Linked DNA regions of Homo sapiens. The protein of the gene in region 3 interacts with the protein of the main gene of each other region in a pairwise test. Each region holds a gene or a part of one and is shown on either strand. Other genes may lie near its edges.

Region 1 (5,008 bases), about 31 Mb from region 3:
CTTTGGGGTCTGACATCCGCAGAACAGGACCAGGGGAAGCAAAAAGTGTTGGTGTTCGTAAACATTGACTTTTCACCTAGAGAAGCTTGCAACTGGCTTCAATTTAGGACTGAAGCTGGTTTCACCTGGGCAAAGCATGTACCTTGCTGAAGACCTCGCAGGGCCGAGGAGACCCTTTCTGGAGCTGGGTCTGGGCTCACCTGCCCTCACATTGCAGCTGGAGCTCGTTTTATTCCTTCTACCCTTAGGCAGCTTCCAGGCAGGTGTGACAGGGCTGTCTATGATACTGCAGAGACCTGGGGGTGGGCTTTGGAGGTGGCTGGAGAAGCCTCTTCCTTGCCCTTCTCAAGCCCTGGGGACCAGGCTACCCCAGTGTTCCCCAGCCCCTAGGCAAGCCTGACCTCTAGTCATTCTTTCTGCCTCCATCTGAACATTATCATATCTCAATGGGGTCTCCTTTTTCTTCCCCGCCAGGCCTGTGCCGCCCTCTCAGGGGAGAGTAGATAGAGGGGCAGTGAGTGCACTGGAAGCAGGGGGACAGAAGGCAGTGAGGACAGAGTGGGAGGAGGTTGGGCTTCATTTGCCTGGAAGAATGACCATCATTCCCTTCCCTGGACAGAAGCATCCTCGTGGAGGACTTAAGGCTGCAGATGAGTAGAAACACTACTTCACTTGGCTTTGGGATTTGCTCTGTGGACTTCCCCAGTCTAGGCAGGTCCTAGCTGAAGCCAGAGTATCCCCACCACTGAAGGTCCAGGGTGGTGGGGATACTCTTTAAGAACTGGAACAGCAAGTCAGAGGGAGTAATGGGGGGGCAGGGTCACTCAGTGCAGTGGTTAAATATGAAGCACCAAAGAATGGAGGCTAGGAGATAGACAGGCCTGGGTTCAAATCCCAGGGCTGCTAAGTACAAAGTCTGACATTTGCAACAAGTATTTTATTAGTGAGTACCTACCATGTGCCACTATTGTAGTCTCTCTGGGTGGGGAGGTGAGCACAGCCGCAGGCCCTACACATGTTACTGAGCCACTCAGCATCCCTTCTGCATTCGTTCCACTATTGCATTTTGAGAATCTGTGCTAGGCAATGGAGATTCAGGTGGGAACAAAACAGACCTGTTTCCTGCCCTCGTGGCATTTACAATCTAGTGAATACCACACAATTAGATAATTACATAAAGAATTCATCATGACTGTGCCAAGAGTTATGAAGGTATGTAGGAAGCTTCGAGAGCATGTAACAGGATGATCTGACAATGTCTGCACAGTTTTCTCTAAAGAACAGAGGTAATAATGCTTAACTCTCAGGGTAGTATTGTAGAACTGATAACTATTCGTGTTATTTTAGAAGTAGCCCCTGGACCACCAGACAGATGCAGTTCTAAATTCCCTACGTGAATAATCCATCCATAGGCAACAAGTTGATTCTTCATCTTCCACTCAGTCAGAGAAGCCAGGCCAGAGAAGCTGGGATTCAGTTATGGCTTCTCCTGGACTCCAGAAGCCTGTGATAAATAATATAGTTTCATTGGAGAAACATCAAGTCAGAGATTTTTTTCTAAGTGGCAGTATAGTGACTACAGCCAGATTGCCAGGGTTCATCCTGGTTCTGCCACTTGCTGTGATTTTGGGCGAGTCAATCACACTCTGTTTTTTAGTCTTGCCATCTGTAGAATGGAGCTAAAATTTGTAACTATGACGTAGATTGTTCTTGGTGAGGATGAAATGGGTTAATTCCTGTAAAGCGTGTAGAACAGTGCCTGGCGCGGGAGGAGTAAGTGCTTTTCATCCTTGGGTGGCCTGCGTGCTCCTTTTCCTGCCCACACACACAACACTGTCTTGGGTTCTCCAGCTGCAGGGAGCACTGTCCACCTTTGATATTCTTAAAACTCAAGGGAAGGAGTTGCCCTCACCGTCTTGGTGGTCAGTCCTGCATTTCATCCCCCTCACTCGAAGACGGTTTTTATGCCTAATGAGTCTTTTCTTGCCAAAGCTTGATTTCTGGGAAGGATTTGTCCCAGCAATCCTTCATTTTCATCTCTGGAACTGACAGTTCAAGGAAGTAGCCAGAGTGATGGGTAAATTTGGATCCAGGCCCAGAGGGACCTGAGAGTCACTGTGAGCCTGGAGGGCAGGGGAACACCTAGCTGCCAGCCCCCTCCCCTAGAGAGGCTGGGTCTAAAATTAAACATCCAGAAGGACTCCCCAGGCCAGGTGCAGTGGCTCACACCTGTAATCCCAGCGCTTTGGGAGGCTGAGGTAGAAGGATCGCTTGAGCCCAGGAATTCCAGAGCAGGCTGGGCAACATATGGAGACCCTGTCTCTACAAAAAATTTAAAAATTAGCTGGGCATGGTGGCACACCAGGTTAAGCAGGAGGATCGCCTGAGCCCAGGAGGTCGAGACTGCAGTGAGCTATGGTCATGCCACTTCACTTCAGCCTGGAAAACAGTGAGATCCGGTCTCAAAAAAAAAAAAAGGACTCCCAAAATCCAAGATGAGCAGTAGATATTGTAGAAGCTTCCTCCCTGGATCATTTTCTGATGAGGATAAAGTCCCTGCTGGCTGAGTGCCAGGGAGGAGGTTAGATTCTGAAAGCCCCTCACACTTAGGGAAGTAGGATGTGAGTAGCAGGGTCCATTAAAATGGCCAAGCAGCCTCCAAATCTGAAAGAAAGGGGGGTTACCTGCTGCTGTAAAGTCAGGAGAGGCCCTTCCTTGGTCACTTTAGCCGGGGACCTCAGGATTTCAGCTTTTGCTGTCAGTAACACTAAGCATCAGGCATAAGAAAGGGCAAAGTCAGTGTGGGTCCCGCACAACAGGGAACCTCAGGGCTCCTCCCTGCGCCTCCTGCTCCCCTGCTCGGGGATAGAGCGGCTCACAAGGGCGGTCAAGCTCTCATCACTGCAGTCCTCGGCTACGCCATCGCTGTCCCCACTTTACAATGAACGGGCAAAGGCCCAGAGAAGTTGTGTGGTTCAAAATCCCCAGAGAAGTTGTGTGGTTGTTCAAAATCCCCAGATCATAGGCACTTTGCAGGGGGCCTTCCAGGCCACAGCAGCTGAGTGGTCAGAACCCTTCCTCCTCTCCTCGCCGCTTCTCACCAGCTCTACCTATGGCAAATGGAGCCCGAGAATACAGGTGCGGGTCCTTGGGATGAGGCCACTAACGCGTTGAGTAGAAGCAGGAGGCTGGGTGATTTAAATCAGGCAGCAGCCTTTACAAAAATTAGGCAGTGATTCCTTGGAGGAATTGAATCAGCTCTCCCTCCCTGATGTTGGGTTTCCTTGGGCTCTCCATAAGGGCTCTGGCACCTCCTTCAGGAACACCTGCTCTGAAGCAAGGAGGGAGGCCCCAGGGTGGGCAGTCTTGAGTGCATGATGGGACACCCCGCTGAATCCAGAGCTGCTCCAGCCTCAGCAGCCCTATCTGTGATGGCATGCTGATGTCATCAGCACCAAAAGCCCTTGCAGGTTTCAACTCGGCAATTAAACGGCTCCTCTGAAGCCCAGCAGCCGTGTGTGTGTGCATATGTGTGTATTCAGGGTCCTAGGGGTGGGCTGGGGAGGAGGGCCCCTTGCAAAGGCAGGGAGAATGGGAGTTAGTGGGTGTGTGACTGCTTCTCTCCTTCGGAGACTCCAGACCTGAGAAGTCAGATCCCTATGGGACTCACAGCCCAAAAGTCAACCCTTGCGTGCAGGTGTAGCCAGAGTCTAAACTCAGCCTGAGCCAGAGCACCCCATTCCTTCCTTACTTCCTACTTTCCTCCCGCCTTTTCCTCCACGTTCCACTCCAATGCACTAAGCACCTACTCTGTAAAAGGCACCTGGGATGTAAAGGAGAACTCAAAATAACCGTGTCTCCTCTATCAGCCTGGGCGCTCCCCAAGGCCAGGGCATGTTGTTTCTCCTCCTCTCCTGGGTCCCCCTAGCCCCCAAAGTGGAGTTCTGAAGCTGGGAGCATTGATGGTGGCTGGTGCAGAGTGACAGGGCTCCCAGATGCTCTCCAACCCCAGGATAGTCGCCTGTCAACACAAGGCTTTCCTCAATCACAAAGCTTGCTTCACTTCCTCCCATCCCCTGCAGAGAAACTAGAAGCCCAAGGGCCTCATCACTGGACAGTCTGGGACCAGGGGAGGACAGCAGCTGGGTGGGGAGTCAGGAAAGCTCCCCCGAGGCATTTGTCAGGTGCCTCTCAGTAAGGCAGGGAGTCCTCAGACCATGGAGAACTCTGGCAGGACTTGCCATAATTGGGTTGATACAGTGGCTCTGGAATTTAGTAATTAGGAAATATTGCAATTAGAGACGGAATTTACCCATTACTATTCCATGCATCTTAATACAGGGTGTAAGTGGTTGTAACTGTGAGCTTGGCACTAGGCATATGGGAAAATAGAAGTGAATGGAGAAATGGGATGAAGGAAGGAGGGGATGGGAGGAGCTTAACCCTTTCCATACCCGAGTAGACTGAAGGAGCAGCCTGGGGGTGATGCAGGGTTAGGGCGAGCCCAGCAGCCCACCGCATTTGTAAGAGGTGACCGAGGCAAAAATCACAGGCTCCCTCCGGACCTTCTGCTTCTTTAGCTCAGGTAGGATCAGATGCAGGGCTTGGCAGGGGTTAGGAGAGTGGTGATGGAGGCCAAGAGGGAGAGGCTGCAGGGGAGAAGGGCTCTTCTCCCAGTTTCCTGCTCAGCTGTGGAGAAACAGAAAAGAGTTGTAACCACCTGCAGTAGTGTGCATGTGAGAGACAGGAGAGGGTACCTTGTACCTTCATCTCTCCCTCCCCACTTGTTCCTTCCCCCGCCCTTCTTTTTACTCCCTTCCTCACTCCTACTCTTAGCTCCATTTTCCTCTGAAGTCAAATGAGGCATTTGTGGTATTGCAGGGCTGAGCTGGGTAGGGCCATGTGTATGGGCGGCGGAGGGAGGGGAGCGGTGGCCGGGGGTGGGAGGGTGGTAGCGTCAAAGAGGTGGTGCTCATTTTTTCCTTTCCAGACCAGAAATGCCTTCCCC
Region 2 (4,179 bases), on a different chromosome or scaffold from region 3:
CGTCTCTACTAAAAATACAAAAAATTACCGGGCATGGTGGCGGGCACCTGTAATCCCAGCTACTTGGGAGGCTGAGGCAGGAGAATCGCTTGAACCTGGGAGGCAGAGGTTGCAGTGAGCTGAGATCGCGCCACTGCACTCCAGCCTGAGCAACAGAGCGAGACTCCGTCTCAAGAAAAAAAAAAAATCATTTTTCCTGGACCGGGTCTGTTTCTGAGCTCCAGCCTGTTCCAGTAGTCCATATGTGTTTCCTTACGCGTGGCTTCAGTGTCTTCAATTACTGTAGCTTTGTAAGTCTTGAAATCACATGGCGTAAGTTCTCCAGCTTTGTTTGTTTTTCAGAATTGCTTTGGCTAATCTTCACAATTGCTTTGCATTTCCATATAAATTTAGATTCAGTTTGTCAATTTCTATAACAAAACTCTCCTAGGATTTTGACTGATATTGCTTTAAATCTTTGCATCAATTTAGGGAGAACATGTTAACTATTTTGAGTCTTCTGGTTCAGGAACATGGTATATGTCTCCATTTATTTAGGTCTCCATTAATTTTCTCAGCAATGCTTTGCAATTCTTACTATATAGGTCTTGCAAATATTTTGTTAAATTCATCCATATGTATTATATTTTTATGCTATTGTAAATGATATATTTTAATTTCAATCCTCAATTTGTCATTGCTTGTATATAGAAATACAATATAATTTTTGTATATTAATCTTTTATTCTATGACGTTGCTAAACTCACCTGTTAATTCTAATAAACTTTAGGATTTTCTACATAATGTGATCACATTATCTGTGAATAATAACAATGTTACTTTTTTTTTTTTTTAAGATGGAGTCTTGCTGTGTCACCCAGGCTGGAGTGCAGTGGCATGATCTCAGCTCACTGCAACCTCTGCCTCCCGGGTTCAAGCAATTCTCCTGCCTCAGTCTCCCCAGTAGCTGGGATTACAGGCACCCACCACCGTGCCCAGCTAATTTTTGTATTTTTAGTAGAGACGGGGTTTCACCATGTTGGCCAGGCTGGTCTTGAACTCCTGACCTCGTGATCCGCCTGCCTCAGCCTCCCAAAGTGCTGGGATTACAGGCCTGAGCCACCATGCCTGGCCGACAATATTACTTCTTTCTTTCCTATCTGTGTGGCTTTTGCTTCCTTTTATTTTCGTATTGCACTGGCCAGGACCAGTACAACGTTGAATAGAAGTGGAGACAATGGACATCATGAAGACACCTTTAAACATTTCTTTTTGTCAGAAATAATCACTGGCTGTAATAGAGGCATAAACAAAATATGATGGAATGCAAACTATGTATGTGTGAACAGGGGTTAGCAGAAAAGGAAACAATTAAATCCTAGTCACTGGGGAAGATTCCTAAGGAGCAGAGTTTTTAAGCAGGTTGCTTGGCTCTCATTGGTCTGACCCTGGAAGGTGGCGGTTTCTGTAGTCTGTTTCCCTCACCCATGATATGCTGCTGGAGTTCCCTTCCCCATCCCCCCACAGCAGAGCTGCTGCGACTCCCTTTCTATCTGTTCCAGGATGGTGTCCTCTCCCTGCACGCAGGCAAGCTCACGGACTTGCTCCCGTATCCTGGGACTGAGCCTTGGGACTGCAGCCCTGTTTGCTGCTGGGGCCAACGTGGCACTCCTCCTTCCTAACTGGGATGTCACCTACCTGTTGAGGGGCCTCCTTGGCAGGCATGCCATGCTGGGAACTGGGCTCTGGGGAGGAGGCCTCATGGTAAGTGTCCGGGGTTCCCTGAACGTGAACTCTCAAAGAGACCCCGGCGGGGAGCAGGAAGGTGGCATGGGAAGAGTGTTTTGATTCCTTGCAGAAAAGTTTATTCTAACAAGCTGATCTTGGGTCTGTAGAAGCTCTAAGAGACAGGAAGCCTAGCTTGGGACCAGGCAGGTCGGGTGTGAAAGTTAACATCCACAGCGTTAGATCAGGCTCGTCATACAAATGTGGGTCCCCAGAGTCAGAGTCAACAGGACTGCGTTCATGTGAGCTGCCAGCCACTCTAACAGCTGTGGGCAGCACCTAGAAACAGCCGGCAAAGTCGATTTCCCCATCTCAACATTCTTCTCTCTCCTGCAGGTACTCACTGCAGCTATCCTCATCTCCTTGATGGGCTGGAGATACGGCTGCTTCAGTAAGAGTGGGCTCTGTCGAAGCGTAAGCACCAGATTCCACTCTTCTAACACCCAGAATGTCTCCACCTCTATTACTCTAGAGGCAGGGCGGTAAAGAGGCAATTTTGGTCTTGGGGCCTGAAGTCAGGTCCTCACTGTGACCCTCAGTAACGCTAAGTTCTTGGGCAAGTTGCTTCATCTTTCCAGTTTCAGGCTTTCATCTGTAAAATGGGAGCTGATCAAGTCAAGGGAGTAGTGCTTAGTGAAGCCCAGACGTCTGTACCAGTGTGAGGACCCAGACGTCTGTACCAGTGTGAGAAACTGTTACTCTCTTAGGGTGTTGGACAATATGGACATGAGTTATGACACTGTAATCATGTGTCATTGATGGAAATTTTCCTAGTTATTTTAACTAATATTTTCTTAGAACAGGAAAGTTTTCCAGAGATCATCTAATCACTAGATTCTAATCTAACCCCTCCATTTTACAGATAAACTGAGGCCCAGAATAAATTTCTACCTTATTAATTACAGCAGCAACTGTATAAACTTGAAAGATCTCAGTATATGTGTGTGTAACAAACACACACACACACACACACACACACTCGTTCTCAGACATGAATCTGTGGCCTTATGGTAACTCCACAGCCTGCTCTGATATCTGCAGCCCACATGTTGGGAAGCCCACTGACTCAGTTACATGTTAAAAAATCAAATATAGGCCAGGCGCGGTGGCTCACGCCTGTAATCCCAGCACTTTGGGAGGCCAAGATGGGCGGATCACCTGAGGTCAGGAGTTTGAGACCAGCCTGGCCAACATGGTGAAACCCCGTCTCTACCAAAAATACAAAAATTAGCTGGGCGTGGTGGTGGGCGCCTGTAATCCCAGCAACTCAGGAGGCTGAGGCAGGAAAATCTCTTGAACCCGGGAGGCGGAGCTTGCAGTGAGCCGAGATGGCGCCACTGCACTCCAGCCTGGGCGACAGAGCGAGACTCCGTTTCAAAATAAATAAATAAATAAGTACATAGATAAATAAATAAACACTTGCACATTTCATTCACTGTCTGTTCTCATTCTGGTTTTCCCCGTGGCACGTAGTTCTGACACTTGAATGTGCATGAGAATCACCTGGAGGGCTTTTGCCGGAACACGGATTGCTGGGCTCCCTCCCCAGAGTTTCTGATTCAGGATGGCGGGGAAGTTTTGCATTTCTAACAGGTTCTCAGGTGATGTGATGCGGCTGGGCAGGGACCCCATTTTGGGAACCACTGCCCTAGGCTTACTGATTCATCTTGACTCCTTTAACTCAGAGTCAAAACTTACTATGCACCTTTGTCTGATCCCTCCCCAACTCCAAACCAGCTTGACCTCAGTGGGAGAATGACTCCATGACTCTGCAGAAAAACGCTATGTAGGTGTTATTCACATTTTTAAAATAGGCATTTTTGGGGGAGGGAGAAAAAAATCTAGAACCCTAAGAAAGAATCCAATATGGGCCGGGCACGGTGGCTCATGCCTGTAATCCCAGCACTTTGGGAGGCTGAAGCAGGTGGATCACAAGGTCAGGAGATTGAGACCGGCATGACCAACACAGTGAAACCCCATTTCTACTAAAAATACAAAAATTAGCTGGGTGTGGTGGCGCATGCTTGTAGTCCCAGCTACTTGGGAGGCTGAGGCAGGAGAATCGCTTGAACTCAGAGGCAGAGGTTGCAGTGAGCTGAGATCGTGCCACTGCACTCCAGCCTGGGCGACAGAGTGAGACTCTGTCTCAAAAAGAAAGAGAGAGAGAGAAAGAAGGAAGGAAGGGAAGGAAGGAAGGAACGAGAAAGAAGCCAATGTAGAAGCAGGCTAGAAACCTGTCAAGGAAGGAAACCCAGTTATTTTCTGGGAGGGCAGTGGGAGCACAGACTGATGGCCAAGAAAGCTCTCAGCTGGAGAAACACAGCGACAGAAGTGGAGTCATTTCAGAGCTTGGCTGCAGCTTCTCTCTCGCTGTTTCTCTCCCTTCTTTCCCTCCCTCCCACTTCTCTCCTTCC
Region 3 (5,008 bases):
AATTTGTACTGCAGCCATTGACCTCCCCTTTTTTTTTTAAGAGAAGGGGGTTTCACTTTGTTGCTCAGGCTGGTCTCAAAACTTTTGGCTTCAAACAATCCTCCTTTGAAGGAGAATCCCAAAGTGCTGGGATTACAGGCGTGAAACACTGCACCCAGCTGTATCATTATTTTTGGTGTGCAGGACAATGACCCTGAGAGCTACTAACTTTGGCTACTCTTCCTTTTACTATATAAGTAATAAATTGCATCTAAAAGTGGCTTGTTGTATCTTTAGTCAAATAAGAGACTTGAAACAGTACAGATTCTCTCTTCTACTGGCCTCAAAGAAGCACCATGACATCTATAGCTGCAGGAAATAAATTCTGATAACTTCCTGAGTTGGTCATACCTGGTGATACCCTGATTGCCATCTTGTTAAACCTGAGCAAAAGGCTCACCTAAGAAGTGCCTGAACTCCTGACCCAAGGAAACTGTGAGATGATAAATGTGTGTTGTTTTAAGCTGCTAAGTTTATGGTAATTTGTTACATGGCAATAGAAAACTAATACACCCAGTCTAGTACCTGTAATCATTTATTGGTTCTTTGGTTCCATATCTCAAAATCCATTAGTTAGAATTAGGCTAAGTATGGAAATATTTCTTCACACCAACAGCTACCTGAGTAAAGCCCAAGTATCTCACCAATAACTAGATACTTCATTATAGAACCCTTCCCACAATGTGCCATCTATACCCAGGCTTAGGGTAGTGACTATTATCCCTCCTTAGGTCTTGAACCTGGGCCATGCAGTTCACATTCCACAGTTAGTCTTTACAGCTTGGTCAGTTTCCAGAGCCTTCCCTCAAGTGACTCACTGCTCTGTCTATTCCTTCTCCCCTCCAGTCAGGACTCATATCTTTCCGATATCAGACACATTGATTACAGCATATTATACTCATCTATCACCAAATAATATATACCTCAAAGGTTTTAAACCACAAATTAGCCATAAAACTTAGTTCAATATATGGGTTATGATAAATAAGAGATATGAAAAAATTCTGGAAGTAGATAAAAACATGCAGTACATCAACAAATTAAAGCTATTATATTACCTTTGTTATCATTCTGAAAATAGGAATCAAGCTACAGATTTAAAACCAAAATAGACCTTCAGACTATGCTAAATAAATGGATTTGACATAAGGTAATCAAGTCATAAAAAAACCAACAATCCTGCATTTCCTTAGCTATAATTCTGAGAAAATAAAATGAATTAGGTTTTTATAACCCAGCAGTTATATTTAGTCTTCATCAGGGGTCAACAACTTTTTCTGTAAAGGACCAGACACTCAGCAGATATTTTAGATTTTGTGGGCCATAAAATGTGACACAGCTTTGTCACAACTACTCAACTTTGCCATTGTAGCTTGAAAGTACCTATCGATAATATGAAAACAAATGGGCATGGCTATGTTCCAATAAAACTTTATTTACAAAAACAGGCTGCAGCCAGATTTGGCTCACAGGCTGCAGTTTGCCAATCTCTAGTCTACACAGAAATATGATTATCATTTAAACAAATGAACAAAACTTACTGCTTAATTTTATCATTTCTAGGTCCAAATCTTGGTCCAGATGGTCCCCTTCTGAAAACAAGTACATACCAAGTACATATTAGTAGTGACAGGATTAAAACAAAACAAAAAAAAGATAGAAAGTATACACAAATACAAACAATCAAGCTGAACTCTAAACATGGATCAGTTATTTATCATAAGGGACCACATTTTACTGATACTGGTGAAACTGAATAATAGGTAATCATGTCTTTACTTCATTGGCACTTATTACTAGCCACAATTAAGCTAATTCTTCTGCATGTTAAAACTTTCAGAGAAATTAGGGTTTATATTATCTTATATAACAAACTTACACAGAATTTGTTCTGATCATTAAACTCTGAAATATCCTAACTACTTAACTGCTAGTGAATATTAATATCTTTATGGTCAACTGTAGAACTAAAAGCGCAATTCATCTTGAATTTAGACTATAATGAAATGAGGAAACTACAAAGTGAACTGCCGATTGACAAAGATGGATATAGAGAAAAATTCATTGAAGACACTAACAATTTTAAGTATGTTTTTGATTATTCATCTTAAACTTATCAACATAGCAAAAGGGAAATGCAAGATATTAAGAAAATTTTAACATTACTCAGATTATTATCTCCTTATTGTAGTTGAGTGTATATCACACCTTAACCAATCCATTTTAATATTCTTGAAATGAAAACATTTGGTTATTTAAAGTAATCATGATTCTTCCGGAGATACAGAATAAATAAGACATAAACTACAAAACTCAAAAGAAACCAGGTTCTTAGATTTCTAGACATGGCAATTTCTAAAGGAGGTGAAAAAATACAGCAATTGATAAAAAAATTTTGGAAAAAAAAACTGTTTACTGAAACTTATTTAACATAATGTATAAGTGTGAATATATCATCTTGCCTTAGTTCCTCTAAGCTTTTTCCTTAAAGTCTTTTAAGCTCCAACTAAGCCTCAGAATACTGGAACAGTATTCCATTCCAAAGTGATGTTAAACATTGAATTTCATAGAGAAAACTAATATTCTGAACCAGAGGCCATTCCTAAAAACTAGGCAAGAACTTACAAGAGCTGGTCAACCGAAAAACAAAGAAAAGCAGTCATTAAATGAGGAAACTATAAAGTGAAATAGAATCTGAAAAGTACTGAATTAAAATGATCCCCACTACAGGTTAAAAAAAAAGCAGGAGCTATGTCTGTTTCATCTATCAAGTAACATGAGACTTCAAAATACTTATAGAAAAACACAAAATGAAAAGCTGGTTCTTTGAAAATTAAAACTTGATAAACTTCTAGCCAGACTGATTAGGAAAAAAAGAAAGAAGGCATAAATTAGTAACAGGAATGGAAGAGTGAACATCACTACAGACAAATGTACCATGGTTATATAAGATTTATTAACAGAAGCTAAGTGAAGCGTAGATAGGAACTCTCTATACTATCTATGCAACCCTTCTGTGGGTCTAAAATTATTTTTAAAAAATCCCCCAAAGAAAATTCCAGGACTAGATTTGTTCAGTTGTCAATTCTACCAAACATTTAATGAAGAAAAAATAAGAATTCTATGCAAACTATTCTGGAAAACTAAAAAAGACAGAACTTTCCCAACTCATTATCCAGGGCCAGTATGAACCTACCACGAAAACCAGATAAAGACACAACAAGAAAAAGACATAACTATCAACCAACCAATACCTCTAATGAACATAGATGCAAAAATTCTTAACAAACTCTTAACAAATTGATTCTAACAATGTTTTAAAAGAATAATACATGATGACCAAGTAGGGTTCATATCACAAATGCAACGACGGTTTAAAATTTCAAAATCAACATAATTCAACACATTCACAGACCAAAAAAAATGATCATCTCAATAGATACAAAATAAATGCTTGACAAAATCCAACGTCAGCTAATGATAAAAACTCTTCACAAACTAGGAATAGGAGGAAACTTCTTCAACCTGATAAATCTACACACAACAACAGTAACAACATGCAATGAAAATGAAACATAATATGAAAGATGAATGCTTCCCCTAAAGGAGATCAGGAACAAAGCAAGGATATTCCCTCTCACCACCTCTACTCAATATTGTGCTGGATGTTCTAATCAGAGCAATAAGCTAATAAAAAATAAAAGGCAAACATAGACGAGGAGGAAATAAAACTGTCTTTATTTGCAGAAAGCATAATTGTTCTATGTTGAAAATCCAGTAGGATATATAAAAACACTACTAAAACTAAGTGGGTTTGGCAAGATTGTAGAATACAAGGTTAATTTACAAAATGATATTTATACTAGCAATAAGTATGACATTTTAAAATTTTGAAACACCATCTGAAATGTCATTTTTAGTAGCATCAGAAATTATGAAAATCAATGTGCAAAAATCACAAGCATTCCTATACACCAATAACAGACAAACAGAAAGCCAAATCATGAGTGAACTCCCATTCACAATTGCTTCAAAGAGAATAAAATACCTAGGCATCCAACTTACAATGGATGTGAAGGACCTCTTCAAGGAGAACTACAAACCACTGCTCAACGAAATAAAAGAGGACACAAACAAATGGAAGAACATTCCATGCTCATGGATAGGAAGAATCAATATTGTGAAAATGGCCATACTGCCCAAGGTAATTTATAGATTCAGTGCCATCCCCATCAAGCTACCAATGACTTTCTTCACAGAATTGGAAAAAACTACTTTAAAGTTCATATGGAACCAAAAAAGAGCCCACATTGCCAAGACAATCCTAAGCCAAAAGAACAAAGTTGGAGGCGTCACGCTACCTGACTTCAAACTATACTACAAGGCTACAGTAACCAAAACAGCATGGTACTGGTACCAAAACAGAGATATAGACCAATGGAACAGAATAGTGCCCTCAGAAATAATACCAGACATCTACAACCATCTGATCTTTGACAAACCTGACAAAAACAAGAAATAGGGAAAGGAATCCCTATTTAATAAATGGTGCTGGGAAAACTGGCTAGCCATATGTAGAAAGCTGAAACTGGATCCCTTCCTTACACCTTATACAAAAATTAATTCAAGATGGATTAAAGACTTAAATGTTAAACCTAAAACCATAAAAACCCTAGAAGAAAACCTAGGCAATATCATTCAGGACATAGGCATGGGCAAGGATTTCATGAATAAAACACCAAAAGCAATGTCAACAAAAGCCAAAATTGACAAATGGGATCTCATTAAACTAAAGAGCTTCTGCACAGCAAAAGAAACTACCATCAGAGTGAACAGGCAACCTACAGAATGGGAGAAAATTTTTACAATCTACCCATCTGACAAAGGGCTAGTATCCAGAATCTACAAAGAACGTAAAGAAATTTACAAGAAAAAATCAAACAACCCCATCAAAAAGTGGGCGAAGGAT
Region 4 (5,008 bases), on a different chromosome or scaffold from region 3:
AAAGAAGACTCTTTTTTTTTTCTTTTTTTCTTTTTTTTTTTTTTGAGACAGAGTCTTGCTCTGTCGCCCAGGCTGGAGTGAAGTGGCGTGATCTCGGCTCACCGCAAGCTCCGCCTACCGGCTTCACGCTGTTCTATTCTCCTCCCTCAGCCTTCTGAGTAGCTGGGACTACAGGCGCCCACCACCATACCCGGCTAATTTTTTGTATTTTTAGTAGAGACGGGGTTTCACTGTGTTAGCCAGGATGTTCTTAATCTCCTGACCTGGTGATCCACCTGCCTCGGCCTCCCAAAGGGCTGGGATTACAGGCGTGAGCCACTGTGCCCAGCCCCCTTTTTTTTTTTTTTTGAGATGTAGTCTTGCTCTGTCACCCAGACTGGAGTGCAGTGGCGCAATCTCGGCTCACTGCAAGCTCTGCCTCCCGGGTTCACGCCATTCTCCTGCCTCAGCCTCCCAAGTAGCTGGGACTACAGCTGCCCGCCACCACGCCCAGCTAATTTTTTGTATTTTTAGTAGACACGGGGTTTCACCGTGTTAACCAGGATGGTCTCGACCTCCTGACCTTGTGATCCGCCCGCCTCAGCTTCCCAAAGCGCTGGGATTACAGGCGTGAGTCACTGCACCCGGCCTTTTTGACTCATTTTTAACAAGCTACCTTTTATGGCAAATTATTAGGATGGCTCTTAGCTTTGAAGTTGCAGTTTACTGCTGAAAACATCACTCAGGGAACCTAGGCTGTGACTTGCAGGCTTTGCTTCTGTCCTACAACATTAGCTTTTCCAAATTACTCCAAGCTCGCCTTGTTCATCCTCCAGGACTCCTTTTCTCTCCAGAGACTGAGGTTTAGAAAGTGAGAACCAGACAAGGAAGAAACTTCTTTAGAACCAGAGGTTCATTTGTATGGAGCTGTAGATGTGGAAGCCTCCAGATTATAGACTGAGCTGCCAGGTGGCTGGGGAGTGTGTGTGCAACTGGAACACTCCTCTGACGCATCGTGGGTTCCGTTCCCCGACTCACTTCTCATTGCCTGGAAAGCATAGGAAAATTTCAGTTCCTGCCCTTGATAGGCAGTCCAGCAAAACTTACATATGACTTTGCTGCCTGAAATTCTTTCTGGAACAGGGCAAGGTATAAATAAATAAATAACATATCACTTTTTGGAATTTAAAGTGCTGTGTCCTTTGATAGCAACAGCAAAGCAAGAGAGGTTGACTGGACAGCCACTCCACACCTCGATGGCCGTTCCCAGTTCCCCTCTGTTGACTGCAGACAGGGTCAGTACCTCCTTCATCAGGAAAATGGAGACATCCAGTGTGAGCTCCTCAGAGCCCCTCCACCACTGCACAGTGACATTTACCTCTTAGTCTCCTGTGTCACTGGATGAGGCGTCCTTGCTGCTGGGCTTACCCTTCCACCTCTGCCCTTGTTCCCTTTCCTTCCTGTCTCCTGTCAGACTGCCTCATCGTTTATTGCCTTTCCTGTTTTCTGTGATTACTCCTTTTTATAGGCTCCTCTCTCTCAGCCTGTAAATATATGTGAGCCCCTCACATCCTAACATGAGTCTCCCTTGATCCTATGTCTTCTAAGTGTTTGCTGATCTTCCTGAGGTTTCTGTTCGGCACTGTTGCTGCTTTCTCTGTGCAACTCTACTCCTTTGGCCTCCATGGTGCCATTACTTTCCAGGTTCTTCTCCTCCCTCCCTCACTACCCTTTCCTCTCTCTCTCTCCCTCTCTCCCTCTCTCTCTCTCCCCTTTGTGGGTTTCTTAGTCTTCTACCCCACTCTAATTGTAGGTGATTCCTAGGGATCTACTCTTTTTTTTTTTTGAGAGTCTCGCTCTTTCGCCCAGGCTGGAGTGCAGTGGCACTATATCGGCTCAGTGCAAGCTCCACCTCCCGGGTTCACGCCATTCTCCTGCCTCAGCCTCCCGAGTAGCTGGGACTGCAGGCGCCTGCCACCACGCCCGGCTAATTTTTTGTATTTTTAGTAGAGACCAGGTTTCAACGTGTTAGCCAGGATTTCAACGTGTTAGCCAGGATGGTCTCGATCTTCTGACCTCATGATCTGCCCACCTCGGCCTCCCAAAGTGCTGGGATTACAGGCATGAGCCACTGTGCCCGGCTGGGATCTACTCTTATCCTGCAGTTCTTTTCGTTCTCTCTACTTACAGGGCTTCAAACATTACCTGAATGCTGATGACTCCCAAACCTACCTCTGGTTTATTCCTTTCTTCTGAGCTTCAGATTCTCCAGCTTCAGCTACCTGAGGGACATCTCTGCCTATATGTCTCTTAGCTGCCTCAAGTTTAATGTGTTCAAATCCAAACCCATCATCTTCCTTAGCCCTCTTTGTCTGCTGTTTTCTCTTGAGTAATCAGTAGCACCATTATCTACTCAGTAATCTTAGCTGGAAACCTGGGAGTCATCTTTATGACTGCTGCCTCTCTTTCACTCACCACATCGAATTAGTCTATATCTTTGCCTTTTTTAATTTTTCTACACATTTCCTGACTCTCCCTTTGTCTCCATCAAGACTTTAAGTCCTTTAAGATCTTGTAGTCCAGCCAGACACAGAACATGCTCTAGTTAGTGCTCAGTAAGCGTTTAATGAATAGGAGGGAAGGATCACCTAATTCTTCTCTTTTTTAAAAAGGTGGGCCGGGCGCGGTGGTTCACGCCTGTAATCCCAGCACTTTGGGAGGCCGAGCCTGGCGGGTCACCAGGTCAGGAGATCGAGACCATCCTGGCTAACACGGTGAAACCCTGTCTCTACTAAAAATACAAAAAATTAGCTGGGCGTGGTGGCAGGCACCTGTAGTCCTAGCTACTCCGGAGGCTGAGGCAGGAAAATGGCATGAACCCGGGAGGCGGAGCTTGCAGTGCGCCGAGATAGCACCACTGCACTCCGTCCTGGGTGAAAGAGCGAGATTCCGTCTCAAAAAAAAAAAAAAGGTGGGCCGGGCACAGTGGCTCACGCCTGTAATCCTGTAATCCCAGCACTTTGGGAGGCTGAGGCGGGTGGATCACAAGGTCAGGAGTTCGAGATCAGCCTGACCAATATGGAGAAACCCTGTGTCTACTAAAAATACAAAATTAGCTGGGCATGGTGGTGCATGCCTGTAATCCCAGCTACTCAGGAGGCTGAGGCAGGAGGATCTCTTGAACCCAGGAGGCAGAAGTTGCGGTGATCTGAGATCACGCCATTGCACTCCAGTCTGGGCAAAAAGAGCAAAACTCCATCTCAAAAAAAAAAAAAAAAAAAAAGGTGGATGTCAGCTGGGCCCAGTGGCTCACACTTGTAGTCCCAGCACTTTAGGCGGCTGAGGTGGGTGAATCATAGGAGGTCAGGAGTTCAAGACCAGCCTGGCCAATGTGGTGAAACCCCATCTCTACTAAAATACAAATATTAGCCAGATGTGGTGGCAGGCGCCTGTAATCCCAGCTACTCGGGAGGCTGAGGCAGGAAAATCACTTCAACCCAGGAGCGGAGGTTGCAGTAAGCCAAGATCGTGCCATTGTACTCCAGCCTGGGTGACAGAGTGAGACTTCATCTCAAAAAAAAAAAAAAAAGTGGATGTCGCCGGGTGTGGTGGCTCACACCTGTAATCCCAGCATTTTGAGAGGATGAGGCAGACAGATCACTTGAGGTCAGGAGTTTGAGATCAGGCTGGCCAACATGGTGAAACCCCGTGTCTACTAAAAATACAAAAATTAGCCGGGCGTGGTGGCACACACCTGTAGTCCCAGCTACTTGGGAGGCTGAGGTGGAAGAATCACTTGAACCCGGAAGGCAGAGGTTGCAGTGAGGTGACATCGAACCACTGCACTCTAGCCTGGGTGACAGAGTGAGACTCCAGCTCAAAAAAAAAAAAAAAAAAAAAGATGGATGTCCATGAGTGGTTAGAATTAGAAGAAATCTTAAATAAGGACATGATGTTGCTGTGGCATGGGGAGGCCACGTCAGTCTAGGGTTGGAAGCTAACTAACTTTCCTCCTACCTAGAGAGGTATGGAGAGAGGCTAGATGCTAGATGGGGCATTCAGCCAGTGGGGTCCACATGGTTGGCTTTTTTTTTTTTTGATAAGAGAACTGAATGACAGGATATTTCTGAAACTTTTGTGACATTTCTTGAAGTGATTAGGAACTTGACAGGGTATTTCTCAACTGGAGATGCTGTATTAATTAAAACATTGACTTCAGGACTTCAGGTAATGGAAAGTAATTCAGATCTGCTTTGCTTTTTTTTTTTTTTTTTTTTTTTTTTTAGGGAGGAGATGGAGTCTTGCTTTGTCACCCAGGCTGGAGTGCAGTGGCACAATCTCGGCTCACTGTAACCTGCGCTTCCTGGGTTCAAACGATTCTCCTGCCTCAGCCTCCCCGAGTAGCTGGGATTACAGGCACCCGCCACCACACCTGGCTAATTTTTGCATTTTTAGTAGAGACGAGGTATCACCATGTTGGTCAGGCTGGTCTCGAACTCCTGACCACAAGTGATCTGCCTGCCTTGGCCTCCCAAAGTGCTGGCCCAGATCTGCTTAAGCAAAAAAAAAAAAGCATTTATTGGAAAGATAAAGAAATATCCTACAGAACCCAGTGGCAGGAATGAGGTGAGGTCTCAGGAGCTAGAAACTTTAGTTCTTTTTTCCTCTCTCATCTCATCTGTCCTCTCTACATCTCCATTCTTATTTTATAGATTGCCGTTCTTTGGTCTTCATGGCAGGTACGCAGCCCCCACTGCTTGTGAGTGTATGTGACACAGGGCCAGCTACCTCAAGGAAGTGACTCTTAGTTGACTGACTGGCTCAGCTTGACTGCCTCTAATCTAACTGTAGCTAGTGTGGGGGTGGAGCACACAAAATCTTTGGTACAAATATAGCTGTTACGAATCCACTTCTGTGTCTCTGAGGACGGAAGAAGGCAAGTCCTGAGAAGGGGGCATATCATCATGAGCTGGTTAGATCCTTTAGAAGGTTTTTCCTAGAGATGTGACTAACTCCTCTAGAGATACCA

Evidence for each region.
Region 1: the proteins of VAMP4 (region 3) and SYT2 interact in binary tests that used the Homo sapiens proteins (3 or more experiments, as listed by UniProt).
Region 2: the proteins of VAMP4 (region 3) and TM4SF19 interact in binary tests that used the Homo sapiens proteins (3 or more experiments, as listed by UniProt).
Region 4: the proteins of VAMP4 (region 3) and GLE1 interact in binary tests that used the Homo sapiens proteins (3 or more experiments, as listed by UniProt).

The regions. Positions count from the first base shown.
Region 1 is NC_000001.11:202,703,192-202,708,199, reverse strand, and holds part of SYT2 (synaptotagmin-2), read left to right. Parts: intron 1-5,008. UniProt on the Homo sapiens protein: Exhibits calcium-dependent phospholipid and inositol polyphosphate binding properties. May have a regulatory role in the membrane interactions during trafficking of synaptic vesicles at the active zone of the synapse.
Region 2 is NC_000003.12:196,324,955-196,329,133, reverse strand, and holds part of TM4SF19 (transmembrane 4 L6 family member 19), read left to right. Parts: intron 1-1,542; 5' UTR 1,543-1,543; coding exon 1,544-1,744; intron 1,745-2,101; coding exon 2,102-2,179; intron 2,180-3,563; exon of another isoform or gene 3,564-4,179. UniProt on the Homo sapiens protein: Negatively regulates vacuolar (H+)-ATPase (V-ATPase) activity by interacting with members of V-ATPase V0 complex and hence inhibiting V1-V0 complex assembly. Required for multinucleation during osteoclast differentiation.
Region 3 is NC_000001.11:171,717,591-171,722,598, forward strand, and holds part of VAMP4 (vesicle-associated membrane protein 4), read right to left. Parts: intron 1,632-5,008; coding exon 1,581-1,631; intron 1-1,580. UniProt on the Homo sapiens protein: Involved in the pathway that functions to remove an inhibitor (probably synaptotagmin-4) of calcium-triggered exocytosis during the maturation of secretory granules.
Region 4 is NC_000009.12:128,527,974-128,532,981, forward strand, and holds part of GLE1 (mRNA export factor GLE1), read left to right. Parts: intron 1-637; exon of another isoform or gene 638-1,027; intron 1,028-4,691; coding exon of another isoform or gene 4,692-4,718; intron 4,719-5,008. UniProt on the Homo sapiens protein: Required for the export of mRNAs containing poly(A) tails from the nucleus into the cytoplasm. May be involved in the terminal step of the mRNA transport through the nuclear pore complex (NPC).